7 linked regions of the Homo sapiens genome follow. The protein of the gene in region 3 interacts with the protein of the main gene of each other region in a pairwise test. Each region holds a gene or a part of one and is shown on either strand. Other genes may lie near its edges. The genes, in order: FRMD4B, RARB, RSPH1, RELN, NELL1, KIF1A and ABCA2.

Region 1 (3,909 bases), on a different chromosome or scaffold from region 3:
GAGATTATACAAAAACATTTAGTTAGAAACTCTAAGGATGTGTAGCCATCACAAGTGGTAAGGAATAAATGGGATAAGATTTTAAAGAAACAGCAACCAAGTGTGGGGTGAGCACCTAATTCAAGGTAAAAGAGCATTTCAGATCTAGGTAGATTTGGCCGGCTCTGACATTATCAGAGAATGCACTTAACGATAATGGCTGAAAATATGCAAGTCCAAAACTGTCCAGAGTGCTGCTTGTACACCAGATGGAAAGAGGAAAGGGGACGGGGGAGGAGAGAGGAGGAGGGAGAGGGGAGAGGGGGAGCGGGGAGAAGGGAGGGAGGGGAAGTGAAAGAGAGAGAGACAGAGAGAAAGAAAGAGAGAACAGGCAAGAGGCAGACAGACTGTGTGTGTGTGACGTGGTACTAATGTTCTTTGTAGGAATTTGGCTTATCTCTTCAGGTCACCTTTTTATCACAGGTATTTCCTCCCATCCCTCTGGCCTCTAAACATCCATAACCATCTCGGGACTGAAAAGTACCCACTAAGGACTGATTAAGAATTTCTCTTAAGGCCGGGTGCCATGGCTCAGCACTTTGGGAGGCGGAGACGGGCGGATCACCTGAGGTCAGGAGTTTGAGACCAGCCTGGCCAACATGGTGAAAGCCCGTCTCTACTAAAAATACAAAATTAGCTTGGCGTGGTGGTGCATGCCTGTACTCCCAGCTACTTGGGAGGTTGAGGCATGAGCATCACCTGAACCTGGGAGGTGTAGGTTGCAGTGAGCAAAGATTGCGCCACTGCACTGCAGTCTGGGTGACAGAGTAAGACTCTGTCTGGCAGTTGGGGGCGGGCGGAGGGGGGCGGGATTTCTCCTAAGATATTTGAGAACCCACATCCTGACTTCAGTTCATGTTGGTAATTTGGCTTTTTTTTTTTTTTTTAAATGACCAAGAACACCAACATTTTAAATGAGCAAAAGATCTGAATAGACATTTCTCTACTAAAGATATAGGAATAGCTAAGCAGCACATGAAAAGATGCTCAGCCATCATTAGTCATGAGGGAAGTGCAAATCAAAACCACAAGAAGGTACCACTTCAACCCACTAGGATGGCATAAACTATACATGCACACAAAACTAAAAATAACAAGTGTCGGTGAGGATGTGTCGGCATTGGAACCACATATACTGCTGCTTGGGATGTAAAATGGTGCAGCACTTTGAAAAGCAGCCTTGCCATTCCTCAGAGGGTTAAAGATAGTTACCATTTGACCCAGCAATTCCATTCCTAGGTATACACCCAAGAGAAATGAAAACATATGTTCATATAAAAACTTGTACACAAATGTTGATAGCAGCGTTATTTGTATAGTAACTGTGTCATACAGAGAAACGTCTTTGATCCTCACCTTCGTGGATCATGAACTTCAACAGCAAATTTTTTCTCACGGAAATATAAGTTCTCCAGCTGTTTCCATTGGAATAACTAAAGAAAACAGAAAAGCCAGGAAGTATTATTTATGCTTATTTTTACTAATTCTATAAATCAGCTTAATAATCAAACAATTATAAGCTCCAAGAAGGTACACTGATACGATGAAACATGAATATGTGATTCAGCCTTTTTACAAATCAACTATGACCTGAAACCATTTTATTCCTTCTTCTGGCAGCAATCTTTAACTATTAAGATTCACCTCGGCCGGGCGCGGTGGCTCACGCCTGTAATCACAGCACTTTGGGAGGCCGAGGCAGGTGGATCACGAGGTCAGGAGATCGAGACCATCCTCGCTAACACGGTGAAACCTTGTCTCTACTAAAAATACAAAAAAAATTAGCCGGGCGTGCTGGTGGGTGCCTGTAGTCCCAGCTACTCGGGAGGCTGAGGCAGGAGAATGGCGTGCACCCGGGAGGCGGAGGTTGCAGTGAGCCCAGATCGCGCCACTGCACTCCAGCCTGGGCGACAGAGCGAGACTCCGTCTCAAAAAAAACAAGATTCACATCACCAATAAATCTTCCTTGAACAATAAAACCAACCATCTGTGGAAGAACATGTACACTATTTTTCCTCTGACTCAACTATATAATAAGGAAATCTGCACAGATTCCAGTAAGCACCAGCCTTCTCAAAGATGTTGATTTCATAGTTAAATGGAAAGATATTCAAAGGGATATTTCAATAACATCAGAGATTGAATTTCAAAAGAATACAAAGTGAAAGTAAAACGGAACCCCCATGCAGGGGTGATTCTCTGAGATACCACTTTCCTACCTATGAAGAGTTCCCCTAAATGCCACAGAAACCTAGCACCAGTAATTGGGGGCAGAGAAGGGGTAGGAGGGAACACCAGAGCCTCTTCTTGGTTTCTGAGCTAGAACCTCCAGTTTTTGAACATAGCTAGCTCCCAGTGTCTGTACACTCTGATATACACACTACTGATACTCTATTGCGGCACTCAGTGCCGTCAGTTTGATTGGGAGGAACAAACTTTACTAGCAATGTGCATTTGAAAACCAAATAATTTGATAGAAAGCAGCTCATTCACAGAATTGAGGATGCCTTGCTATGTTTTCTGGGCTGCTTCCTAAGCTCTTTATAAGACATTGTACTATCCTGAGCCTTGGTTTGTCCTGTCAACTTGGACTTCATGGTCAAATTCCTCTTCTCTGCCCCCAGACTTGATTAGGGAAATAACAGCAGAGAGTTTCATTATATTATTAGACTTCGGCTGGATTTTAAAATTATGTTCAAAGAATCTTAAAAGATTATTTTTAATAGTCTATACAATAAGCACTTCTCTGCAATGCACTATCAGCAAAACCATTTCCTGACATACGGGAACCCAGGCTTTTCACAGACATGTAAACCTCATCATGTAAAGGAACAAAATGAGCTGAAGGTTTCTATACGTATGCAGGCATGGGAAAAAAGGGTTCAGACTGGACCCCCCAATTCCGAACAGTGAAATAAACCAGCACACCCTAAAAACACAGCCCTCCGGGGTCCGCACACATAGCTGTCTGTAACTATAACACTCACTCAGGTTCACAGAAGAATTAATAAAAGTATAAAGTTACATACCCATTTCTTAAAATCTCCACAAACTTGAGGTTTTCATTTCTTTAAATCCAGAGGTTCCAAAAATGGGACAGAAATGTGAGGAAAAACCTCAGGGTTCTTCCGCCCTCCCCCCTCCCAGACGGCAGCTCCGGTGAGTTCTGAACTGAGTTTCATAAGACACTTAGGTGTAACTCAATTTCACAAACTGAGCCTCCCACGGCTGACACACTACTGACATCAGCAACTCTCCTGAGTGACACCTCCCTAATTCTACTCCTTCCTCCCATCAGGGAGAGGAGGGCAAAGTTCTCAGTGGCAGATTTTCCCAGAAAAGAGACCTTTCTAAAATGGAGGGCAGTTGGGATTTGCCTGATACTTCCTAGGAAGTAAGTTGCTTTGAATCCAAGGACGAATTTCACCGGAGGCTGTTTTAGGAAGACATTTCTACCCTAGTTTACTCACCCTGGACATGAACAGGTTCTACAGGAAGAGTTACAATGCAGCTCAGCTGTGTTTTCCTTTGCGTCCATTCCCACACACATAAAAACCAGGGCTGGACTTGAAACATGATCTCTGAAAGTCACCACCTCCCCCTCTTATCACTTACAAATGTGAAACCCTAGCGCTTTGGACTCCATTCAGCCTGTCCCTGCATTGAGAGCAAATACGCTCCCTGCAAGCAAAAACTCTACTTAAAAGGCGAAGGACTTCAGCTTAGAGAATTTGAAATAACTGGATTGTAACTGGGTTTGCACAAGGTTATGGGAACAAGACTGGGTTTAAAGCATGAAAGGCAGAGAGCAGTTCATTCCCCTGCCTGAAATCTTAAAAGTTTGTGCAAAGTATGATTTCATATATGTGC
Region 2 (3,909 bases), on a different chromosome or scaffold from region 3:
TTTCCTCATCTGTAAAATGAAGATGACATCTCACTTATAGGGTTGTGAGGATTAACTGAAAATGATGTATGTTGTCATTAGAGTAGCATTTCATTAAACATGGAACCAACCAAAAAACTAAAAGCCCCACAACTGTTCTTTAATTTAATCATTTTCAGAAGACAATACTTTCTTTCTTGTTATAGTGCATATACGCTACGATTGTTATGGTGGACATTCTTTGCCTTTCTCTCCCAAACTGAAAGGTAGTTATTGAATCTGGGCTGGCCCTGTGTCTGCTTCACCAGCAGAATATAGTGAAAGCGACTGTATACCACTCTCTGGGTCTAGGTTTTAAGAGGACTGGGAGCCTCTGCTGCCTCCTTCCTGGAAGGTTCACTCTCGAAACACTCTCTCTCGGAATACTGCTGCCATGCTGTGACATGCACAAGTCACATGCAGATCCCCTAGAGCTCTCACCGACAACCAACATCCACCACCAGCCATGAGAGTGAGACTTTTTGGATTGCCAGCCCAATTTAGCCATGGATGATTCAGCCCCAGCTGACAGCATGCGGAGCAGAGGGTCTGCCCAGCGGAGCCCAGCCCATCCACAGAATAATGTCATAATAAATTGTTAGACCAGGAAGTTTTGGGATGGTTTGTTACACAGGAATAAGTCACAGAAATCATAGAGAAATAAGTGATTTTTAAAAATCCAATAGAATCAAACCCATCCCCAAGGAACATGATTACTTAACACGCTCCAGAAACATCCACATGAAAGTCTTCAAGAAGCTAGTTTGGAAGGTGTGCACTTATTCCACTGTGTAAGATAGGTTTAGAACTCCTTTGTGAACTACTTTTAGAGATGATCTATGAGGCCTGCACACAGAAAAACTTCACGCCCGCTCCACTGTGACAAAAATGTATAATCCACTTGATCACCCACCATATAAACCAGCTGTGGTTCTTGGCAGTTCTTAGTTCTTTCCATTATCAATCTTAGGTTCAAAGACATGGGGAGATTTTTGGGTTTGTTATAAGGGGGTTATGTGACAACGACTTGTGTCACAAGTTCTTCCCATTATATCATGAGTTCAGAGGGAGAAGGGACAGTGTCTGATTCATCTTGGTGTCCCCCACAGATCATATCAAGGAGCCTGGCACATGGCAGACACCCAAGAGCCATTTGCTGAATGGCACGTTGCAAAAACTAATCCATCAATGAGCAATAAAAATGTACTGTGCCACGACAGCATCTTTGGGCTAAGTGTATTGTGACAACTTTGAAGGTGACAATGCTCACTTGTAAAAGTCAATCATTTGCAAGAAATCTGGGGATCTGGTAAATGGATGCCCCTGAATCAGGGCACAGTGCTACCTGACAAACAGAAAGGACTGCCACCTAGGTTATGAGCTATAGACCGAGGGATCATTTCACCAAAGAAAAGAGATACCTAATTTAGATATGACCAAAAAAAAAAAAAAAAAGTTTGCTTTTAGCAAAGGCACGTAAGCCACAGGTGTCATGCCAAAATCAGGGCAGAAGGCCTACCTGGTGACTTCCATATGTTTTCAAGACAAGAATAGAATCTTAATTTACATGATCTCTAATCCTTCTACAGATCCTGCAATGTAGACACTATTATTCCCATTTCATAGCTGTAGAAACCGATCCTGTGTCAAGGCAGGCTACTTGCATTATCTTGGACCATCAGGCCATGATGGGGAAGCAGAGGTGGAGAGATGCATGGAAGGGTAATTCTGAGAGGACCAGGGAGAAGCAGCAGTAAAACTCTTGGAAAGGGAGAACTTTTCACAGCTTCTGCTGAGTGCAAGAAAATTATTATACCCCCTTCTCTAGAAAGCCTTTGAGGTACAGGTGATAGGATAAGCTCTGGAAGAGTATTCACAACTTCTGCCTGAACTATAAGCCCAACATGGGTTTCTGGAAACTCTTGCCCGAGAAGCAGAGAGATGCCTTGTTCATCTGCATCCCCCAACTTTCCCTGCAAATCCAAACCTGTTCATCCTACCTCTAGTTTGTATTGTTTCCCCTGATAAGGAGGGCCCCAGTGAACAATTAAAGCTTTCAATAAATAATCTCTAAGCACATTCATTTGATTGACTGTTATTTGATACAGCAGTTAGTTTCAATGGGGCAGTTAATATTGATCACATAAAGTACTCCAGACAAACATGAAACAGTTCCAGAACTCCATGGATTATTACCCTTTATCTGCCAGTCATCTGGGTTACTTGTAATGGTCACGGAATTTAAAATCAATAATAACAATTAGTGTTCTGTACACCAAAACGGATGAATCATGTGAAATGGGTTTTCATATAAAATCAAAGGTAAAGCAAGCCGATAGCATGGAAAAAAAGCTCTCTGAATTTCCAGTGCACATTTGGCAAGGCACTTTCACATGCAAATCCTCAAAACAGGCAGCAAGAGCGAAAGAAAGGTGCTCAGGAGAAGATGTGGCCATAAAAAAGCATATGAAACCCCTGACGATCTTAATCCAAAAAGATGAAGCGTAAAAGATAAAAGTGATCAAAATGAGTTCTAACAAATGTAGTAAAATTAATGGAACCGGTAATTTACTTCCTTGGAGATGTGTCTAGCTACATTTTTCAGCTTTCAATTTCTAGGCATTAATCGTGATTTTTTTTGTAATAAAATGGCAACAACGGTATTTTAGTAGCTCCATGGCACGACTACTGTAATATAATGTATATATAATTAAAATGCAAAGCAACAGAGAAATGTTTCATCATTAAACTGTAACCAGTGCACTATGTGAAATCATCCATTCCAAAGACTTGTTTTTCATCAATTATTTGTTGTTTATCTGATGTAAATATAAAAAGGACTAATTAAAATATATGCCTTTTTATACAGCTTCTTGTCATTAAAGCCAATGAAAGCATTCTGAGGACCATAATGAAATAATTATGTTTGCCTTTAAGAATTCTCTTCAATAACACATGGCAGTACTGAGCTAAATTAAAACATCAGGAACTGAATTTCGCTGCCTCCATTTCCATTTTAGTTAATTAAACCCCCAAGCTTTCCAATAGACCAGCCCCTAAAAAAATCTTTTGAAGCTGAAATGGCCTTCAGATCATCGGCCTTTTTATAATTATGGACTTTGATGACATGACAAAGGTACTGTAGCCGTTGAAAGCTTTAATATTTTTGAGAAGACAAATTTATTACATGAGGTCTTCATTTGCTCTGGAAATGGGAAAAAAATTGGGATGTGATCCAGATCTTCTCTCCCTAGTTAACCGATGCACTCATCTTATTTGTTCTTTTACCTGCACATTATTTTGAATTTAGCTATTTTTTTGACTTGACAAAATTTTATTCTGTGATGAATAGTAATTTATCAACAACAACATAGCAAACATTCCACTAAATATGGGTCAAATTAGGACAGTGATTCTTTGTCAAACACTGAAACTTAAAAAATAAGAAGCTATCTTTAAGACAGCAGTGGACTGAGGAGAATCTGTGAATTTTAAGAAATAAAATCCTTCTGTTTGACTTTTCTCCTCCTCCAAATCTCAAATCAGATACTTTGGAAGGCAAAGAATAAAATAAAATGAAAATAAATCTGGGTTTAAGAGAAAGGGAAGAAGGAAAAAGGGGAGGAAAACTGCTAAGTGGTTTCAGGGCTGGTAGCAAATGAAATGGCTTTAGCAATGTTGTCATCTGATGCAGATGGGGATGGGAACTTTGTACTTTCAAAAGTAAATACAAGGCCGGGCTCGGTGGCTCACGCCTGTAATCTCAGCACTTTGGGAGGCCGAGGTGGGCAGATCACGAGGTCAGGAGATCGAGACCATCCTGGCCAACATAGTGAAACCCCATCTCTACTAAAAATACAAAAATTAGCCAGGTGTGGTGGCACACGCCTG
Region 3 (4,382 bases):
ATTCTTAAAACAGTGCCCACACACAGTGTCAGAACTTAGTAAACACTGGTTACTGTCATTGTTAGGACAAATTTGAAAGCTAAATTTCTGACATTTTAAATGTAAAAAACGAGTATTTATTTGCATATACTTATGTTACCATTCTAGATTTCTAACATTTAAAATGCTTCTGGCATTTTATTATAAAAATAGGACATGCTTAATTGTAGTAACTGGGTAACTGCCAATATGTAGAGAAGAAAATAATAATCATCTGTTATCCCTAACTCCCCACTTTTCCCCATAAGAAAAGCTGTTAAATTTTGGTGTTTACAACATTTTTATCTTTGCATCTAAAAAACGACATAATTTTGGAATCTCGTGTGTTGTTGTAACTTGTGTATTTATTCAGTAAGTAATATATTTGGGCCTGATGATGGGTTATGGTTGTAACCTTTCATATTAGCATTGGGAAGAATCTCTAGGGGATGTGTGCTCTGGAAGATCAGCAGCTTATTCACCGCGTGGATTTGGCTTCTGGGATTCTCCCATCAAGACCAAATCCTATAGTTATTCAGTCACTCCTCCCCAGCTCCTGCAGCAACAACAAATAACACAGCTTTGCAGTCTGGGATGATGGCAGAGGAAATGGGAGATGTGAGGGGCCTTCGGCAGGCGGAGTGCGTCAGGTAAAGCAGATTTCCAAGCCTGCACGTGTACATGCGTGTGCGTCTGTGATTGTGTGGGTGTGTGACAGTGTAGGGGAGCCAGGAGCGAGAGGAGAGGACGGCGATCGTAGGGGACACCTGAGAGTCAGAGGCCCGAGGGGGCTGGGACTCATGTCGAGGTCGGGGAAGGATGTAAAACCCGGACGGACATCACTGTAGGCCGCACCTGCTGAGAGGCCAGAGCTGCCTCCTTGAGAGTGAAGTTGTTTACAGACAAGAGAAGAGATCTTGGCGGACACATCACAGCTAGCCGCGAATCCCGAAGGGTCAGCAGAGCCTAGAAAGGTAAGTGGGGGTGGGCAGCATCCCCGGAGGGGCCTGCGAGGCCTGGGGGCGGAAGGGAGCGGGCAGTGCCCGCACTGGGCAGGGGTGAAACCCTCTCGAGAGTTGGCCCGGACGCGTTTCCCGCGTCCTTCCTCTTGAGGGCCCAGTACCCAGGTGGCTCCTCGTTGTGGCGTCACAGAACAGCCGACAAAAGTGATGGATTTCAGGGGCCAGCGACGGCGAGGTCCAGGTCAGAGAGCCGGTGGGCAGCCAGGCACAGAACCCGCTCAGGCCCTGCCCAGTCCCCGCCCCCTCGCTTCCCGAGCAGTGATTGGCCGAAGCGGCCCCTCGTTGCTATGACGGCACCAGAGTGCTGCCACTGGCTCCACCTCGTCCCTTCCGCCCCGCCCCTCCGTATTCCCGGGCGGTGATTGGTCGAGGTGCCCTTCCCGTTGCTATGACAGTACGCAAAGGCTGCCAGTGGCTCCTCCCGCTTCGTCCGCGTCGCCTGTCCCCGCTCCCCATCTTCCGGGCTGGGAGGGAGGCGGGACCGGCCGCGTCTCCATGGCGACGCGGGACGCGGCGGTGGAGGCGGTTGCTACCCACCTGCTAGAGGCGCTGCGGCTGTGATCCAGGCTGGGGCGAGACCATGTCGGACCTGGGCTCGGAGGAGTTGGAGGAGGAGGGAGAGAATGATATTGGGGTGAGAGCTCCTGGTGAGAAAGGGCTTCCCAGGGTGCGCAGCGGCGGGGGAACCTCGAGGTTGGGTTTGGAGAGTGAGGAGGCGCAGAAACCAGAGGTCTGAGCCACAGCTCCCCAGGATCCCCGGCAGGGACGAAGGCCACGCCAGACACACCTGCGTGCGTCCTGGAAGTTGATGGTGAAAAGTGAAACGCTGTGACGTCTGGTTACCACATGCCGCCTCGTTCTTCCCCCACCCCCATCCTGCCTCCCATTAAAGGCAAAGATTTCCCAGCGGAAGGCTTTGGAAGTTTCCTCCTCCCTGTGTTAATTCCCATCGAGGCAGTTTTCTCGGATGAGCAGATCATCCCACGCTGCCATACTGCCCTTGAATAAGTCATTTCTGTAGCTGAGATTTGCTCCCCCGGCATTTAGATGCATGGAGGATAGTTGCTTCCTGGCAGCCTCCAAGAAATGCTGAGGAGGCCCTGGGCTCAGGAGAGGGTTCCTGAAGATATTACCTTATAGGCGTATCCTCACATGTGCTTTCTTCAGTCCCCATCTGAACTGACCCAGGTCTTTGGAGTTATTTCCTGAGTTAGGCAGCAGAGAGGAGAAAGAGGGCACATCCAGCCTGTGAGCTGGGTTCTGTGTGGGAATATTTCTATCACCCAGAGAGTAGTTCCTCCCTACTCCAGAGAGTGACCTCTCCATGGCTGACAGATAGGGAACCTCAGCCACTATGGTCTGCATGCACAGTACAGAGTTGAGGTACTTTCAGAATTAACTGAAAAATCTAGCGACTCTGCAGTGGTGCTGTCAGTGCCTGCCCAGACCTTTTTGCTAGCTCTGGGCACTCATCTCCCAGCTTCCGCCTGATTTGCTACTCAAGCTATCACCTCTGTGCGCTGGAACTACCTGCCCAGTATGGAGAGCCAGAAGTGCCTGAAATTCACATCCGGCCAGACAGCCAGTAGCTAGTGCAAGAAGCAGGACAAAGTCTGCAGTGCGATTGATGCCCCCAGAGTCCCTGTTGGATTAGGCCAAGTCTGGGACTTCACCTGCAAAGGCATCCTTCCTTAGCTGCCTGCCCTTTCATGTCTACTTCCCTGCCCTCTTTACTACTTTCTCCCAGGAGAGCACTTAAAAAAATCAGGCCAGGCGCGGTGGCTCACACCTGTAATCCCAGCACTTTGGGAGGCCGAGGTGGGCAGATTGCCTGAGCTCAGGAGTTTGAGACCAGCCTGGGCAACACGGTGAAACCCTGTCTCTACTAAAATACAAAAAATTAGCCGGGCATGGTGGCGGGCACCTGTAATCCCAGCTACTCGGGAGGCTGAGGCAGGAGAATGGCTTGAACCCGGGAGGCAGAGGTTGCAGTGAGCCGAGATCACGCCACTGCACTCCAGCCTGGGCAACAGAGCGACTCTGTCTCAAAAAAAAAAAAAAATCACTTGTTCAGGGTCTGTTTCTAGGTGAACCCAACCTGCAACACTTGACCAGCAAGATTTCTAGTTTGTCTCCTCAAATGGCCCCACTGATTTGTAACTTTTTAGTGCCTATAATTTTTAGGTTCAGATCACATTTGGGGTCATTTTAAAGGATTTCTGTCTTATTCAGCCACCCCAGCGGCTCAGTGTTGGGTGTATTGGGAAGCCTCTTGGATAGAAGGAGGGGACTTTTGTACATTTTGATGTAAACTAACCCTGAAACAAATCTGTGAGGTCGCAGATTTTTACCTTATATTCTAGGCAGGAATTAGTGGTCCAAACAGTGCTAGAAAAGGGCAAGAATTGCACAGACGTTTATTTCTGAAGTCCTCAATGTAGTGTGTCAGTACTTGTGTTATAATAAGTCTATATACATCCAATTCAATTTCTTAATTTTAATTTTTAATAAATTTTATTATGTATATTTAAGAAATACAGTGTGATGTTATGAGATACCCATGTTAAATCATTACTGGATGCTTTCAGCATTTTATTATTTACTATATTCACTCTATACCCATGTATTAGGTGCTAAGGAACATTTATTTTCTGAAGGATAGGAAAATTGCAAGCTTTGATCACATTTTTTATTTATTTACTTTTAAGATAGACACATAATTGAGCAGGCATGGTGGCTCATACCTGTAATTCCAGCACTTTGGGAGGCCAAGGATCGCTTGAGTCCAGGACTTTGAGACCAGCCAGGGCAATATAGTGAGACCTTGTCTCTACAAAAAAATTTTGAAATTAGCTGGGAATGGTGGCGCATGCCTATAGTCTCAGCTACTCAGGAGTCTGAGGTGGAAGGATCACTGGAGCCTGGGAGGCGGAGGTTGCAGTGAGCTGAGATTGTGCCACTGCACTCTAGCCTTGGCAACAGAGTGAGGCCCTGTCTCAAAAACAAAAACAAACCACAGATAGATACATAATTATTGCAGCATTGGGTCATGAGTGTTCGAACCTTAAGTCTCTTGCTAGGGGTCTTAAAAATAAGATAAACTTAATCAGCAAGGGAGCCCTGTGTACTCCTCAGTGCCCTCCAACCTGTCCCTTCCATCGGAAATTCCTTGCAGGGCAAAGGTCTCTTCAGGCCACACCCCGCCCCAGGGATCATTTGAGGGAAGAGTTGCTTCTCTCTGGGCATTTGCCTTTGAAATCCTGGATTACTGAAGGAAGCAAACGGGGAGGTATTTGTGTGGACTTGAACTGTTCTACCCGCATGTACTATTTCAAGCATGTT
Region 4 (3,909 bases), on a different chromosome or scaffold from region 3:
CAAAGCTGAGCAGTCTTATAAGAGCTTATGTATTTCATTTCCTGGGAGTCAGTGCATTAGAAACCATCAAAAAATTGATGAGCCTTCAGGTCCACTAATTCATTCCTTGGAAGTTACACAAATGTGCCCTCGTTCTAGGAGACACAATTTGAGGTTGCTGCAGTCTCACCATTTAAGAAATACTGTTCCTTCCCCTCTAGGAAAGTGTCCAAATAACTGGATTTATGTCTTTTAACTCAGGGCTTATTGTTCAGTATTCAAATGACAATGGGATACTCTGGCATTTGCTTCGAGAGTTGGACTTCATGTCCTTCCTGGAACCACAGATCATTTCCATTGACCTGCCACAGGACGCGAAGACACCTGCAACGGCATTTCGATGGTGGCAACCGCAACATGGTAAGTTACTGCTCACTCCAGCTTTCTGGTAGCTTTTAGGTCATGAAGTATCCATACCCACCTTGCACTGTGTGTTTCTTAATTTGCTGTCAATTTCTAGACAATTTGATTTAAAATCACAGTCATGAAGATATTCATATTGCTATGTAACAAAACTTCTCTAACCACCTTTATTCATCTGATTGCAGGGAAGCATTCAGCCCAGTGGGCTTTGGATGATGTTCTTATAGGAATGAATGACAGCTCTCAAACTGGATTTCAAGACAAATTTGATGGCTCTATAGATTTGCAAGCCAACTGGTATCGAATCCAAGGAGGTCAAGTTGATATTGACTGTCTCTCTATGGATACTGCTCTGATATTCACTGAAAACATAGGTATATATTGTCACCAGATAAAGGGAAAATATCTGATTAACTAGAGGACTAAATTAACTAAAAGTCAGGAGAAAACTTTCTAATGCAAAACCGTGTGCCTAACTACCCATGCTGAGGGTGGCTCTCAGTGAAAAAAAAGTTTTATTGTGCTAAGACAACTTGGTGATCCTAGTGACGGTTTTTGTTGGAACTGTCTTTCACAGAACATGAATGATATGAGTAAGGTTTCTTAGAAGAGCAAAAAAATCTATGAGAGGACATTCCTATGTTTCATAACTTGTAGACTTAAGACTCTATGTTTAAAAAAAGATAGATGTTTGAAGTGCTGGATATCCCAATTACCCTGATTTGATCATTACATATTGTATAAATGTATCAAAATATCACATGTAACCCAATATATGTATAACTGTAATATATCAATATTTTAAAGATAATATGTTAGCCCTTTCCAAGGTGGTAATGCTTTTCAAATTAGCAGCCTTCTATATTTCTAAATCTATGGTAACCAAATAGAAGCAGAAAATATAAGAAGAAAAGTCAAAGCACATAGGGGGCACTAAAGATAGGCCATGATTTTTGTTTGCTATTGAAGATGTTTATTATAAGCATAAACACCAAATAAGAAAATGGCACACATATATGCTACCATTACACATTTTTTTTTTTCAGGAAAACCTCGTTATGCTGAGACCTGGGATTTTCATGTGTCAGCATCTACCTTTTTGCAGTTTGAAATGAGCATGGGCTGTAGCAAGCCCTTCAGCAACTCCCACAGTGTACAGCTCCAGTATTCTCTGAACAATGGCAAGGACTGGCATCTTGTCACCGAAGAGTGTGTTCCTCCAACCATTGGCTGTCTGCATTACACGGAAAGTTCAATTTACACCTCGGAAAGATTCCAGAATTGGAAGCGGATCACTGTCTACCTTCCACTCTCCACCATGTGAGAATTGTCATTTGGCTACATGTCAGAACTTTGGGTGCCTGTCACTTAATTTGAAAATAATTGTGATTCGGCCTGGGGATTCTATTATTCTTTCATGATAATTATGCATGGAAGTGCCAGGAAGAAAAAAAAGTGCAAGGTGCTTTGGGTTGCAAGTTTTAAATGTGGCTAGAGAGCACCAAAAGTTTTATGAGGCTGAACTTTTCTGTTCTTTGCCAGCATAAAGGCTGCCCACCAGATTCCATTTTTAAACTGTTGTAAAAATAAGTCTCTGCCCATAAACCAGACTGATACTTATTCACACAAAACAGTATGTGAAATTACCACATATTGGAGAGTATCCTTAGTTTTTTTTCATCTCAGTACCACAGTATGAACAAAAGGTTGGTTCCTTTGGAATGCTCATATTGTTTTGCATCTGTCTTCCCCTCCCCAGCATTTCAGATCACATTCAAGAGTTGTACTGACTTACAGCAGGCTTCCACTTTTGTGGTGTAGGCATTTGGATCATTGGAGGATGTTTCTGGGAACTAACGGGTACTGTGGTGACTGGTTAGAGGCTGTACCTCCTGTGACTGCTCCCCCGAGATCCTTGCCTCTCCATTCCTGTGCTCTGTTCTGAATGGCAGGCTGCATTTCCCAGCCTCCTACATCTGTCAGACACTGCAGGAGAATGGAGGGGAGAGATAAGGGATAAATCAGGGTGTTCCTCCCCCCTCTTTCTGCCTCAAGTGCATCTTGGCCAACTTCTGTGGCTCTAGCTCCCCTGGGTGGCCCTCCAGGTGACCCTGGTCCCTGGGCACCAGCAACAACACTTCCTCCCTGTGTCCCTACAGTCTCAGACTCACAGTAAGTGGCTTCCTGACTTTGCTAAACTCCGGTTTCCTCACTGCTTCTACTGGCTTCTCTGCTCTGCCACTTGCTATACATCCAATTCCTTGCACTAATTTCTTTCTGTGTTAAGTGTTTATAGTGGTTTCTGTTTTCCTGGTTCAAACCTGATCCAGACATGTACAACCAAGAGGCAAGGGAAAATTCAGGAAGCCAAAACATTTTAGTATTTAGCCTAAAATAGTTTCCTATGACTGCTAAAGCTTTAAATAGTGCTTACTTGTTTGTAGCTCATTTATTCATTTTTTAAAAATTCAACAAACACTTATTGAATATCTACTGTGTTTTAAGCACTCTGGTACTACATGAATAAGCTGATGCCAGGATCCAAATGTGTTAAAGTCATGCATCACTTAACGATGGTGATACATCTGAGAAATGCATCGTTAGGCAATTCCATTGTTGTGTGAACATCATAGAGTGAACTTACATAAACCTTCATGGTTTAGCCTATTACACACCTATGCTGTATGATATAGCCTATTGCTCCTCAGCTACAAAGCTGTACAGCATATTGCTATACTAAATACTGTAAGCAATTGTAACATAATTCCAAGTATTTGTATATCTAAACATATCTAAACATAGGAAAGGTACAATAAAAATATGGTATAAAAGATTTTTAAATGGTACACTTGTATAGGGCACTTCCGATAAACAGAGCTTACAGGACTGGAAGTTGCTCTGGGTGAGTGGGTGAGTGAGTGGTGAGTGAATGTGAAGGCCTAGAATATTACTGTACACTACTATAGATTTCATAAACACTATGCACTTAGGCTCCACTAAATTTAAAAAAAGAATATTTTTCTTTCTTCAATAATAAATTTACCTTACTATAACTTTTCCATTATATAAACTTTTTTTAAAACTTTTGGACTCTTGTGATAACAGCTTAAAACACAAGCACATTGTACAGCTGTACAAAAATGTTTTCTTTCTATCGTTATTCTGTAAGCTTTTAATATTTTGAGAACTTTAACTTTGAAAACTTCTTTCTTAAAAACTTAGACACAAAAATACACATTATTAGCCTTGGCATACACAAGGTCAGAATCATCAAGATGTCAATTAGCAATAGGAATTTTTTTTCAGATCCATTATAATCTTATGAGACCATTGTCATAAATGCAGTCCATCATCGACAGAAACGTCATTATGCAGCACATCACTGTATTTAGGATAACAAACCTCTAAGCAGCTGTTTATGCTATAAGATGATACCAGAGGAAGTACTCAGAGATATTATTGAAACACAGGAGGGTACTACCTAACTCATTTGGGGAGAACTGGAGG
Region 5 (4,492 bases), on a different chromosome or scaffold from region 3:
GCAGTCTTGCTTTAATTAAAATGTGCCTGATATCATCTACTCAGTTCCATTAAAAGCCGGTGATATCTGAGCAGCTCACTAAGTGAACCACATGTTTATTTCATCTAGGACTGTTAACAGCCCAGACAACAATTGTCCCACTTGACAAAGAAACTTTCAACGCAGCTGTTTGGATGCTGATAATCACAAGCCAGCCTTTGTTACCTAAGAAGAGGGTGGATGGATGATGTGGAAATGATTTCTGCACAGAATCAGAGGGCTGCCTCCAGAAAGCTACCGCTTATACCCTCTCAAGCTACAAGATACTTTAAGTGTACAAATTGAGAGGTAATTCCCCCGTCTCTCTGATTCTTCCGATAATGTGTGTAGAAGAAATATGCGGCCTCTAGTGTTCAAATAGTGCCAAGTGACATTGAGAACCCAAGCTCCCTAGGCAACAGCCACAACCAGTGGGTCAGATCCTTCCATGCTTCCCTGCCTTTGCTGAATCTGCTCCCTCTGCCAAGAATGCCTTCCCACTTTGTCCACCTGGAAAACTCCCTAGAAAGCCTTGAAGGTACATCTCTCAAATCCCTGACCACCACTCCTCCCTAGAATTAATTCAAACTGTCTCTCCTCCACATTTCCTTAATACAAACTTATACTCCTACCTCTCCACCACCCCCCCCATCAATCTGTAAAATTAAAATGCCTGCCAGTTTCTATCTAGATTCCCAGCTGAGCTTTAAGTTCCTAGAAGTCAAGGACTGTCATTTCCTCTTTGCATAAGAAATCCTGGCACCCAGCAAGACATCGTTTGTTGAATGAGTAAAGACATGAATGAATCTTCCCCTACAACGAAATTTTTACAAGATTTAAAGGGGATTGGAAGTGGAAAGAGGGAAAATACCTGTTCTTAAAGACCCCTTCCACAAGCAATGAACCCTGAAACACGTTCCATTCCGTGATAAGGGTACTTTGGCGACTTTTCAAAGGAGTAATGAGAACAAAGGATTTAGGCATATTCCGTAGTGATGTGCACTTAGGGATGTGAACTCACTAACGGGTTGCCCCCTCCCTACCTAGCTTCTTCCTGTCTGCGGTTCCTCTGTAAGATGTCCACGAGCACCAGACTCTCGCGCTCAGAGCCAGTAGCCCACGCTCTGCACTAGTCTTGCCTGTCCTGATCTTCCTGGGGTGCGCGCACTCCTTCAGCGTGTCCTGGTTTTAAAAGACTAACCCATCCGGATGGGCCTGAACTCAAGAAGCAACTATTCTAAGCTAGACTGAGCCTTGGCGTCTCCGCAGCCTGGGAAGCTCGGATAGAGGTAAGGAACGGAATGGGAGGTTTCTTTTGTCCCTTGAGAAATCCATATTCAACATTCTTAACCAGACGAAAGCCGCTGCCTGCTCAGTCCTGGGGAAGTGGGAAGGGCCCTCTGAAAGCTCCTAGACGCTAGATCTTCCAGCGGGCTAACTGCCAAAGAGGGGCGCCTGGGCGCAAGCGGAGGGAACTTTTGAGCCAACCAAGTGCAGACGCCCCTTCTTAGCCCTCTCCAGATGAACTTGCTCTTTGGCCTAGAGAGAAGGCCACGCCTCTAAAGAAGGAAATAAGGATGGTAAAGGGGGGAGAATAAAGGGAAAGGGAATGACCACACAGATTCTGGGGTGCAGCGCGTACGGAGGATGGCTGGGTAGGATTGCAAACCTCCGACACTCCCCCCAGTTGACAGGCCCTATTTTTGCCAATTTCCTACATCTCACCCCACCTCACCTCACCCCAGTCTCCCCGCATCTACTACTAGCTCTTTGAAGAAGGCGGCTGCAAGCCAGTCTCCGAACCCCAGGGGACTTTTGGGCAAGGGAGCCGGTGGAAGCAGAAGGAAGAAGATGCGCTGAGAGTCCTCACAACTGCGTCTCCGGAGGCAGAACGAAGTGGGGACTTCAGACAATCAAGCGTCATCCTTGCTCCCCCCTCCCCACACGGAACCCTGCGATTATGGCAAGAGAAAACTGGTTTGAGCTTGAGAAAATTTCCCCAGATTGTCTCCACTGCTCTATTTCCCTCAGATAATTGTTCGCCCAGCCCTTGGGAGCAAAGACAGGCGGAGGAGAATACTCCTGGAGTTCTCCTGGGTAGTCAGGAAGGCACAGGAGGAGATCGCGGGATCCCAGGGTTCTCCCGCAGCTCTCTGCCCTCGCCGCACCGCGCCCTCCCGGGCCCCGGCCGCGCCCGCCAGCCGGAAGCGCTCCCTCTGCGGGTGCGACTCCCGCAGCTACCCCTTCCCAGCCTGGCGGGGGTCGGCGAGAGTGGTTTCCACAGCACCTTACAAGTTCGGGAACTCGGGGCACGCGGGCCCGCCCTGCTGCGGGTTTCGACTCCCTGGGACGGAAAGCCGGTTACTAGCAGCAAGAGGGTGCGCCTACTCGGCCGCGCCCCTCACTCCTGCGCCCCTGAGGCCGGGTCCCCTGAGAAGGGGCACTCAACGGGGACATCTTCAAGCCCGTGAGTCCCTATTTTCACCCTGTCACTCCGAGCAGGGCAAAGAGATCCCAGGAACCGGTCCACGCTACCGCCGTTCCCCAGACCAGCGCAAAGCTCGGCTCCAGGTCTCCCCACGCCGCCGTGGTCTGTGGGCACCCCCATTTCCCGGATCCCTCTAACCGCCACAGTCATGCTTACCTGTCCTGGCAGTGCACACACAGAACCACACAACTAAAATCAAATCCATCGGCATCGCTCTCGAGGGTCCCCGCCTAGCAGGGGGCACCGAAGCTAGGTGGAAGCAAATGAGCCTGGATCCTGAGGCGCGCCTGGCTTGGAGCCGCCAAACTTGCTAGCGGGCGGCGGGGGAGGTGGCTCGGCAGCGCCGGGTGCTGCGCTCGCATATGCGCCCGGGAAGGCAGCCCCGGCCGCCCCGCCCCCAGCCCGCCCCCCACCGCTGGCGCGGCGGCGGCGGCGTGGGGCTCGGGGCCCGGCCCCCCGCTGCGGCTGCGTTCGTCTGGGAGCCCGGGCAGGAGCGCGGGGTTTGGCTACTGTGGCTTGTTGCGCTCCCCACTGGGGGCCGATTCCGTTCGCCTCCTTCGCCCGCAGAACTGCGAGGATCTGGACTGCAGGCGCCGCAGCCGCTATCACCCGGAGCACCGAAGTCGGAGTCCCAGGACCTGCGGCCGAAACGAGAGAGCGGGAGGCGCACGGCGCCCCCACGGCTTCACGCGCTCCAGCCCCTCCGAGCCGCAGTCGCCAATGTTGCCCTCTTTACTTCCGCACCGCGGTGGGGGCTGCCGAAGTTGCCACAGTTCATCCCCGCCGAGTCGAAAAGCCGCCGAGCCCTCGCGGGTGGGTATTTTTCCTCGGGGGAACCCAGACCGAGGCGGCGCCACCGAGCGCGCACGGACCCCCTCGGAAAACAATTACTCGGGATTCGCTCTGTCAACTGGGTGGGGAGGGACCTGAGGGGGATGATGGCTGAGTCCCTGCTCACCGCCTGTACCTTCTGTCTCCTCTCTCCTGTTGAACCCCTATGACTGAGTACTCTCTTTGTGGGTGCAGGAAGAGGGCGCTGAGGTGGGGGTGCAGAAAAGGGGTCCTCGAGGCGGAGCGAGCTGTGGTTGGGGTTTGGGAAGTCTATTTGCAAACCTTCTCATTCTGCAGGGCAGATGCTGCCACATAGGGGTAATTCCTAACCATCTTTTTTTCTTTCTTGCGTGATTTTCTTAATGGTATTATCAAAAGCCCACTCTTCTTTCATAGTCACATTTTGGCCCCATGTGCAATTCCTCCGGGACCTCCACCTTCTTTTCCCTCTCCCACCACAACATTCTCTGGAGAGAAAAGCTGGGCTGGGCTTTGTTTTCTACTTGCCGGCAAGAAGAGAATGGGTCCTCTCCCCTCTATGCGACCCTTTCAGGACCTGACCTTCCCTATGAAGATCCCCCAAATTTAAGACTTCTGTCCCACTTCCTATTTGTCCTACTAACACCTAGGAACGTTATTTATAACTGGATATGTAGAGTCATGAAATCTGAAATGACAGCCTCTGATTTATACCAAATGAACTCCACTTAGCTTGCTCAGTCTTCCCACTCTCTCTGAAGCCCCCGCTCCCCCTCACCAGCAGTACTCCTTTGATATTCACAACAGGGATCCCAGAGGAGTCCAAGGAAACCTCAGAACAGCCGTCCCTCGTTTCCTGGAAACCAATTCCAACGTTTCAGAATCCTCTTCACTAATAAGAACGTGCCCTTCTCACTTGCACCCACTTTCACTTCCTATATCCTTAACCCCTACACAACTTTGACCCCAGGAGCCCCAGTGAAGTTCACCAAATCAGCGCAGCTTATTAAGAGAGAAGGCTTTACTAGCATGCTGTTCTGGTCTCTGCCCTATTTTTCTGGATATTTCTGTGTGCAAGCCACTGTCCCATTTGGCCCTTTATGTTGTGGTCCTTTGGCAGATGAAAAAGAAAGTGAACAAGCAGGTAAATTCCAGCTCAAGAAGTCTACTGCACAA
Region 6 (3,909 bases), on a different chromosome or scaffold from region 3:
GAGAGCGGGGAGGAGGCGCTGGAGGAGCCATGGGACTCAGAGTCCTCGCTGAAGGCCGGGGACAGTGCCTCCGGGACAGGCCGCTGGGCGGTCTCCAGCTTCTCCCGCAGGAGCAGGTAGTGCCTAGTCTTCTCCACCTTCAGACAGGACACAAGGCCTTACCTGCTGCACCTCAGGGGTGACCTCCGGAGTTGTGCTCAGCCTCAGCAGCAGCATGACCCTCTGGGCAGACCCCGGAGAGCCCACCCTCCCCTGGGCTAAGACTGAAGACTGACAGCCCTCAGCTGTGAAATGAGGGAACAGACCCTGGCGCCCCGGGGCTGACAGCCCTCAGCCCCCACCCCAGCCCTGCCACCTTCATGGGCAGCAAGCAAGCTGCTCCTCTCAGACACATCCATCTCACGCGCCAGGTTCTGGGGCAGGGCTGTGCTGCCTTGCAGTGCTGGAGGCCTCAGGAGAGGGCCGAGGGGTGGGCAGAGCCCTGGCCTCACGCATCTCACACGTCACGCGTCACGTGTCACACACACACTCGGCCCGAGGCAGTGCCTAGATGCTGCATGTTGGTTTCCCTGATCAAAGCCGCAGAGGGCAGCCCAGCCCCGCGACTCTCCTTCCGGGTCCCTTTCTGGCCTCTGTCTATATGCCCGATAGTCTTCCTCGGCTAATTCCAGAGCATGCCTCTGTGCTACACTGGCCATGTTTCTGTCATACACCACGCAGCCCCGCAGTGCACACTGGAGCATCACATGCTCCTCCTGCAGGTGGCTGTGACTCCCAAGCAGCTGTGCTGCCCCCCAGTAGGCACCAGGCCCTGGGCCCTCTCCAGCTTTTGCTCTGCACACAAAGCCACATGGACACCACCGTGCGGGCCTCATCCTCTGAGGCTGCCTCACCTCCTGCAGGAGGCTCAGCTTCTCCAGCTCCCACTGGTGGTCCAGAATGAGACTGTCACTCCGGGGCCTCCAGCCTGCCAGGTTCTCCTCGCCCCGGACATAGGCCACAGATGTGTCCAGGACTCGTCGGCGCCGGCGCTGCATCCCTGCATGGGGCACGTGGACATTCCACCCCTACCTGATGGGTGGCTGCTCCTCCCACCCATCCTAGAGGTCCGCCCATCTGTGAAGCTGTCTCCCCTCTGGAGTGGAGATGGGCTTCCCCTGGTCCTTGGTCCACCCTGGGGCCCAAAGAGCCATGTAGGCCTCTTCCATAGGAAGTTATCCAGCCCGGCGTCCCATGGCCATCTCGGCTGTGCCCTGGGAACCCAAGGAAGCCAGCAGGCCTGACTCTCCTCCCTCGCTCTCCTCCCATCTCAGAACAACTCCAGAAGCCACAAGGTGAGTGCTTGGGTTCTGTGAGGGATCCCCCTGCAAATGGCAGCTTCGCTGTGGTCACCCCAAGTGGGCAGAGGTTGAGCAGGCCAGGAACCCACCCAGTGAGAGCAGGGCAGATACCTACCTGGGCTGCCCGCGTCAGCCACGTGGCACAGGCTGAGCTCGTACACACCAGTCACACGGTTACTGTGGGGAGTAGAAGGAGTGACATGCAGTCACCAGGCCCCGCAACAGGGACACACAGCCAGCCTGGCTGCTGACTTGCCCCACTATCAAACGCACAGTCAGCCTGGCTGGGGTGATGGGGTGTTGAGGTCCCTGAGCTACAGCCCCTGTTCAGAGTCCTCATCCCAGACTCCCTCCGGCCCCCAGAGAAAAGATGCATTGGCTGGTCTTGCTCAGGTGCCCATGGGGCTGTGACGTGAGGCCAGGCCCCCACAGCAGCCTCCACTTTGTCCCAGCCCAAGTGGGGTACAGGCAACATGAGCACAGCATCTGGCATCTCCAGTCCCTCCACGGCGTCGAGAGCCCCTCAGGCCCCATACCCCACAGAGCAGCCCCACTGTGCCCCGGACAGATTCTGAGAGCACCTCGGCCACCCTCCCACAGACAGGTCGGTGGCATCCCACAATTACTGAGTGACCTCCAGAATGACCACAGCCAGCCCTCAAGGACACTGGATCCTGACCCCCAAGCTCTTTCCTCCCAGCTGTGCCCAGTGTGAACCTGGACACCAGGTCCATGTGGCAGACCACAGGGAGACCCACTGAAGGTGGCCACGGGTGCCCGGTAGCCTCGGCAGCCCTGCTGTCAGGGCCCTGACATTCCGGCTCATTCTCCCCCACCCCCAAGAATCAGGAGCGTGTTCAGCACGCAAGCACGGCTGGTCCTGGTGTTCGGTGTGTGGCTCCCCAAGGTGCTGACAGCCTCCAAGAAGAGCCACCCAGCAGGTCCTGTGGGAAGCTGTGTCCAGAGCCCCCTTCCAGCCACCGCCCACTTATCCAGCTCCTCCTTCAGTGCCTTGTGGGCAGTCAGTCCCATGGCACAGGTTCCGTGGTCCTCAGGGAAGAAGGTCACCGGCGGCGGGGGGGGGGGGGGGGGAACGGTGTGGCCCCAGGATCACCCACAGGAGGCCCCAGGTGGGCACCCTGGGCCTGCCCCTCCTCCCATCCGCTGCAGGCTGGCCCTCAAGTCCCTCATAGTGGTGTCAGTGTCCCCTGCAGGAACCATGGCCTCCACAGAGTCTTCATCTAGGGTGAGCAGGAGGGGACTGAGCGCAGGGAGCCAGCCAGGAGTGTGGCTGGGCCTCGCACAGGGTGAGCTGCCGGGTGGCCCAAGGACCGCTGCCAGGCAGAGCCCTGCCTGGCCCGCACCGAGACCAGGGTGGGAGTCCATGTGGTCCTCACCCCTGGGAGCTTACCTCTCTGAGGCCCGAAGGCTCCCACTGCCAAAGAGGTTGCGGATGGAGCGCGAGGCTGGCAGCTTGGCATCACGGGAATAGAAGACCATGCAGAAGTCCTTGGTGACAACAGCCGGCTGGGTGCAGTTCTCCATCTGAGATAGGCGGGAGCAGGACTCAGGCACAAGGACACCCCGAGTGCCCAGGTGCCCTTCCAGCCTTCTCCTGGGGGCACAATGCCCAGCACCGACAGGCAGCCCCAGGGCCTTCCCAGGGCCTCAGGTGTGGCCTGGACGCAGGCAGGAGAAAGTCTCTGCTCCTGCCCTCGAGAAAACCCCACTGGGGACAGGTAGCCACAGCTCTGTCCACCCCTGGGCTGCCTGAGGGACTGGTCTCCATGTGTGGGGACCCCGAGGGTCCCAGACATAGGCTCACTGCTCGGGCCTCAGCTGCCTCACCATAAAATTGGGGTGACCCCTCCCCGACCCTGGAATGTCTGTGAGGATCAAACCAGGTCTTGTTTGAATGTGCACATTTTAACCCAAACACCACAGAAAATGACTTCCTGGTGGATGACACGCTAACTGCTGAACAGCTGGCCCCTTTGTCTTCCTGAAGTGGGGGCAGCTGCTGTGCATGGCTGAAGAGTCCCAAGCACTCGCTGGGAAGAGCTCTGCCAGCGCCTCCTCACGGCAACCTCACCACCATCTGGTGAGATGGTCACACCATCCCCATGTGAAGCTGGAATAATTCGGCTGTAACTAAGGAGAGGGGATGTGCTTGCAGATGCCCCTGCCCACTGCTCCCCACCCTCCCTCTCCCTCACTACTATGACCAGCAAGAAACGCCCACACTTCCAGTCACCTCTTGCACTTGGAAGGGAGGCCACAGCCCAGGTCTGGCCACGGCCTATGTACTGCAGACTCTGGGGGTGCTGTGGGGATGGAACACTTCTGTTTTTGTGCTGCCCGGAATGCAGACACAATGTCTGGTGGTGCTGCAGCCATCTTGCATCCCAAGGACAACACCCACACACTAAGTATGGTAGAGTGAGTTAACTGCCATTAAAAGCACATGGAGGATGGGTGCGGTGGCTCACACCTGTAATCCCAGCACTTTGGGAGGCTGAGGTGGGTGGATCACCTGAGGCCAGGAGTTTGAGAACAGCCTGGCCAACAT
Region 7 (4,581 bases), on a different chromosome or scaffold from region 3:
GGCATCCTTTGTCCTCATCCCCATCCCAAAACCCTTCAGAGCCCCCAGTGTGCTGTGTGGCCCGGGCCGAGTCCCCGGTCCCTGGGGTGGGGGCGGCTGCTGTGTTTACTGTGCTTGGACAATAGGGCTTTGTGGCCAGGAACATCATGCTGTGGGTGTCCCATGCCCGCCCCAGCCCGTGCCAGCCTCCACCCGCTCCCTGAGCCAGGACGGAGCCCAGGGTTCGCCAAGGCACTGTGGGCACCAACAGGCACCAGGGCGAGGGTGGCTGCAGGAGTGAGGCAATGTCAGAGGCAGGGGTCACAGCACGGGGCGCCAGCCCCGCCCACACCCGGCCTGCTATGGGCACTGTAACTGCAGCAACAGGCCCGGCTGCCTCCCCCATTGCTATAGCAACGGCCTCGCACGAGCTACTGGGAGGAGGAGGAGAGTCCTGGCTGGCAGGCGGCGGGCGCCACAGCAGCATCTGGTTACAGGCGGCAGCACAGGTCTAGCACGCCCTGGGTGCCCCACACAGGTGCCTCCAGGTGGCCCAACCTCCGTCCCTCGAGACCAGCCCAGTGCCTTCACATCGCCTGGAGGCCTAGATGCCTTCTCTGGGCATGACCCCTCCCTGTAGCTCCCGCCTACTGTGTCGGGGGGAGAACAGGTGAGACCCGAGGGTGGCGCTGCCATCTGCCATCCCAGTGACTTCATGACAGTGACCCTGTCCCTGCACCAAGAGCAGCCTGTAGCCCAAGGGTAGACCCAAGTCCAGCTAACTAAGAGGAGATAGGCCACACTCACAGACAGGGAAACTGAGGCAAAGAGCTTGGAGGAGCCTGCTAGCAGCACAGAGGTCCTTGGCACCCACCCTCCAGACCCTGAGCTCTGCCCAGGGTGGAGCTCTGCCCAGGGTGCACCCCTGCCCCAGCAGGGCGCATGGCACACAGGGCAAACCTCTGTCATCCAAGCTTGGCCCCAAGAGTCCAGCTCTGATGTCCAAGATCCTTCCCAGGAAAGTGGGGACCCAGCAGGAGTGTGCCCAGTGTCCAGCCAGCCCCAGCCCCACATCACAAGCCTGGCAAGGACTCAGCCTCCCTGGGGGAAACAGTTCCCCACCTGCTCCAGCCATGGGCTAAGGACCTCCACTGTGGCCCAGTGGGCCTCTGGGAGCCCTGTAGGGTGGGGACCCAAAAAGGTCCTGGGGGGCAGCCCAAACCAGCAGCTGGGAGTCACTCTTGCGGTCAGGACAGTGCACACCTCCCACCTGCTTGCCAGCTGCCCTCATAGGCCACACTCCCTTCCCTGAGCATTGTCCCCACTGGAACAGGGGCCACCATTCCAGCCTCTGCTCCCAAGCCCAGTGGGGACCTTCCTGACAACCACCCCCGGGGACTAATACTAATGCATGCCACATGCCACATCCCTGTTCCCTTGGCCCTGCTCTGCTGTCCCCAGTGACTCAATGCCAGGGGCTGCAGGCCTGATCCATGGGACCCCACTCAGCCAGCTCCAGGTGCCTGGCCAGGGCATGTACCTAACCCAGGCTCCCCGCCAAGGCCAGGTGCCCAGGGGAATTCTGCCAGCCATGGTGATGATGGCCACCCCAGCTGACTGCAGCCTGGGTTTCCTGCAGTGCATGTTGAAAGATAAACAGGCACGGACTGGTGCAGCCCAAGGGGTCCCGCCCGGGCCCTGGCTGGGCAAGAGGATGTCTGCCTTAGGCCCCCACCTGCTCTGAGCCCTGGCCTGGACAATCCCAAGGGCCTTCAGAAACCTAAGCTGGTCCAGGCCTGTGGCCTGGGAGGTGTCCCTTCCCTTCCCAGGCTGGAGCCAAGCTGGCCAGCTGGGGGTATGGCAGGACACCCATATCCCCAAGCCCCTCGCTCCACGAAGGACTTCTGTCCCTGACAGCCATGTGTCCTGCACCCTCAGGTCCACTGGCTGCCCAGGCAGTGCTGGGAAAGCCGGGGTTCACAGCTCCAAACAGTAGACCCAGCCCCCAGAGCAGGTGGGGGGACCAGGAGGCAACAGAGTGGATCAGGCTCGGGGAGAACTGACCCCAAAGGACAAATGGGTGCAGAGATTCAGGCTGGCCAAGGCTGGCACAAGGACATTCCCAGTGGCGAGAGCATGAGCAAGGGTCACGGATGTGCCAGGAGGGGAGGCGGAGAGATGCCTGGGACCAACCTCTATGGCAGGCCGCGGCCCAAGGGCAGGGGAGGGGTGGACGGAGGGAAGGGACAGGGTCTCCTCCGGGACCCCAGGGAGGCTGGGCCCAAGGACCATGGAGCCTCGCAGCTGAATGGAGCCCCCCAGGCCTGCCTTCTGTCCTGGGAACCAGGGCCTCCCTCGAGCCAGAGTCCTGAGCGCCGCTTGCCCCCCGCCCACAGCGGCCCCAGCGAGCGCGCTGCAGAGGGCGCGGGTGCCGTGACTCAGCCGAGCACCGCGATGTCAGCGGACGCGGGACCGGACTGGACACGACCGAGCCACCTCCCCGGAGGCCGCAGCGCCGGCAGGCGAGGGCAGGGCCCGGCGGGGAGGGGGCTCGGGCCCGCGCCGCCCCCAGCGCCCGCCGGGGTCTGCGCGCGCCCGGCCGTCCGCACGTGCGCGCGGGGAGCGCGCCTCTGGCCGCGGTGCGCGCGGCCTCGGGCTGAGGGCGGGCGCGTGGGGTGGGCTCACCGGGCTCCGGCGTTTGAGCGTCACGTTCTTCCAGAGCAGCAGCTGCAGCTGGTGCAGGAAGCCCATGGCGGGGCCACGCTCCGCCGCCTCAGCGCCGCGGCCCGCTCCTCTGCGCGCCCCGCCGGGCCCCGCAGCCCGCCGCGCCGCTGGGCATCGCCCGCGCGGGGGCGGGGCGCTCGGGCGTCCGGGACCCGATCCGCGCTGGCTCCGCCCCGGCGGCCGCGGCGACAGCGACTCTGCCCGCGCCCCGCCCGCCCCCGCTTAAAGGCGCCGCGCTCCGTCCGCGCCCGCCAGGAGGCGCCCGCCGCCCGCGCCGCGCCCGGGACCGACCCGGGCCCGAGACCCTGCGCGCGCCGCCGCCGGGAAGCCTCCGGGCCGCCCCTCGCCGGGCGTCACGCGACGCGCCCACATCGAATCCGAGACCCCGGCTTAGCCTTCGTAGGCCGGGGGACCCTCGGGCGCTGCGCTCTTCTCCCAGAGGCATCCGGCTGCGCCCACCGCGCTGGCGACTCTGCAGAGGCGCCCCAAGCCTTCACTGTCCCCGGGGCGCGCCGAGCGGACGCTGGCGAGGGGCCAGCTCACCCCCGTAAGGGTCTCCTGTGTGCTTTGTAAACCAGCACTTGGAGTCCAGGTGGTGCCCACCTGGAAGGGAGGCAGGGCGGCCAGGTGGGTCCGTCCCGCGATTCCGAGCAGCCAGCGGAAGGGGGGAAACTCGAGGCCCCAGGAACGCTCGCCGTGAGCGGAGCAGGCAGGGGACCGAGGCGGCCCCTGCTGCACGCGGCTCGTTTTTCTCCCCATATTCGGGCGAGTCTGGTCTCTGCACAGGGAGTTCGGGATCAGGCGGTTCTGCGGCTGTGGCTTGGCACCTGCTGGGGCGCCCCGGGAGGTGGGGCAGTTCCTCCGCGTGGCCTGTAGAGAGCGACAGAGGACAGGCTGACCCCATGGGTGGCTCTGACGGCGCTTCCCAGACTCAGTTTCCCCCCTGTGAATGGGGTGGAGTAGCGCTGTGTGGTGTCCAGTGTCAGGGCGCACATAGAAGGCGCATCCTCAAGTGAATGAAGACCTCCGAGGCCACAGCTCCCCACTCCTCCCAGCTCCTTTGCAGCAGGAAGGTGACCCTGGGCTAGTGAGTGAGGGATCAGCTTCCCACCCCAGCCCGCAGCCTCAAGGCACTTGCTTTTCTCTGCTCAGTCCACAGGGCTGGGTCAGGGCAGGAAGCTACCAGCAGGTCTTTCCCACAAGCCACAGCCATGGGTGAGGGGGGCTTCCTGCCCTCAACCTGCCCACCCCTACCTGGGGTAGGGACAAGCCCTGTGCCCCAGCCCCGGGGGCTTAGCCTGTTGGGGCCCTGGTCAGCACCACCCGTGGGTTGGCCTCTCTCCTCCTCGCCCCACTCTCCACCGTCCACTACAGGGGCTCCCTGGCTGCAGCCGCATCCCCAGTGCCTCCCCAGCACTGGCCACCAGAGGGAGCTACAAGGCACAGGTCAGACCCTGTCACCCCAGACACCCTCCAGCCTGCGGGCCTGGGAGATGGGCGATTTCAGCCTGGCCAGGCCTCTGACGTCCGTTCCCTACTCTTCCCCAACCTTGGCCTGTTTTGGTTTTTGTTTTGAGACAGGGTCTCATTCTGTTGCCCAGGCTGGAGTGCTGTGGTGTGATCACGGCTCACTGAAGCTTCAACCTCCTGGGCTCAAGCCATCCTCTCACCTCAGTATCCCAAGTAGCTGAGACCACAAGCGTGAGCCACCACGCCCTGCTAATTCTTGTATTTTTGGTAGAGATGAGATTTCACTACACTGCCCAGGCTGGTCTCGAACTCCTGGGCTCATCGCCTTGGCCTTTTGGGGGACACAGAAGGCTCTCTGATAAGGGGCCGTCTGGCGGAGGCTGTAGGAACTGGGGTAGCCAGTGGGCA

The links.
Region 1: the proteins of RSPH1 (region 3) and FRMD4B interact in a two-hybrid assay, tested with the Homo sapiens proteins (one large-scale study listed by BioGRID and IntAct).
Region 2: the proteins of RSPH1 (region 3) and RARB interact in a two-hybrid assay, tested with the Homo sapiens proteins (one large-scale study listed by BioGRID and IntAct).
Region 4: the proteins of RSPH1 (region 3) and RELN interact in a two-hybrid assay, tested with the Homo sapiens proteins (one large-scale study listed by BioGRID and IntAct).
Region 5: the proteins of RSPH1 (region 3) and NELL1 interact in a two-hybrid assay, tested with the Homo sapiens proteins (one large-scale study listed by BioGRID and IntAct).
Region 6: the proteins of RSPH1 (region 3) and KIF1A interact in a two-hybrid assay, tested with the Homo sapiens proteins (one large-scale study listed by BioGRID and IntAct).
Region 7: the proteins of RSPH1 (region 3) and ABCA2 interact in a two-hybrid assay, tested with the Homo sapiens proteins (one large-scale study listed by BioGRID and IntAct).

The regions. Positions count from the first base shown.
Region 1 is NC_000003.12:69,197,303-69,201,211, forward strand, and holds part of FRMD4B (FERM domain-containing protein 4B), read right to left. Parts: exon of another isoform or gene 3,519-3,909; coding exon of another isoform or gene 3,510-3,518; intron 3,208-3,509; exon of another isoform or gene 3,069-3,207; intron 1,473-3,068; coding exon 1,396-1,472; intron 1-1,395. UniProt on the Homo sapiens protein: Member of GRP1 signaling complexes that are acutely recruited to plasma membrane ruffles in response to insulin receptor signaling.
Region 2 is NC_000003.12:25,434,682-25,438,590, reverse strand, and holds part of RARB (retinoic acid receptor beta), read right to left. Parts: intron 1-3,909. UniProt on the Homo sapiens protein: Receptor for retinoic acid. Retinoic acid receptors bind as heterodimers to their target response elements in response to their ligands, all-trans or 9-cis retinoic acid, and regulate gene expression in various biological processes.
Region 3 is NC_000021.9:42,493,425-42,497,806, reverse strand, and holds the start of RSPH1 (radial spoke head 1 homolog), read left to right. Parts: upstream 1-1,582; 5' UTR 1,583-1,620; coding exon 1,621-1,674; coding exon of another isoform or gene 1,675-1,687; intron 1,688-4,382.
Region 4 is NC_000007.14:103,563,091-103,566,999, reverse strand, and holds part of RELN (reelin isoform a precursor), read left to right. Parts: intron 1-240; coding exon 241-399; intron 400-587; coding exon 588-776; intron 777-1,448; coding exon 1,449-1,722; intron 1,723-3,909. UniProt on the Homo sapiens protein: Extracellular matrix serine protease secreted by pioneer neurons that plays a role in layering of neurons in the cerebral cortex and cerebellum by coordinating cell positioning during neurodevelopment.
Region 5 is NC_000011.10:20,667,949-20,672,440, reverse strand, and holds the start of NELL1 (protein kinase C-binding protein NELL1 isoform 1 precursor), read right to left. Parts: upstream 2,856-4,492; 5' UTR 2,718-2,855; coding exon 2,663-2,717; intron 1-2,662. UniProt on the Homo sapiens protein: Plays a role in the control of cell growth and differentiation. Promotes osteoblast cell differentiation and terminal mineralization.
Region 6 is NC_000002.12:240,722,520-240,726,428, forward strand, and holds part of KIF1A (kinesin-like protein KIF1A), read right to left. Parts: intron 2,886-3,909; coding exon 2,752-2,885; intron 1,518-2,751; coding exon 1,456-1,517; intron 1,040-1,455; coding exon 894-1,039; intron 138-893; coding exon 1-137.
Region 7 is NC_000009.12:137,025,411-137,029,991, forward strand, and holds the start of ABCA2 (ATP-binding cassette sub-family A member 2), read right to left. Parts: upstream 2,828-4,581; 5' UTR 2,731-2,827; coding exon 2,665-2,730; intron 2,502-2,664; exon of another isoform or gene 2,054-2,501; intron 1-2,053. UniProt on the Homo sapiens protein: Probable lipid transporter that modulates cholesterol sequestration in the late endosome/lysosome by regulating the intracellular sphingolipid metabolism, in turn participates in cholesterol homeostasis.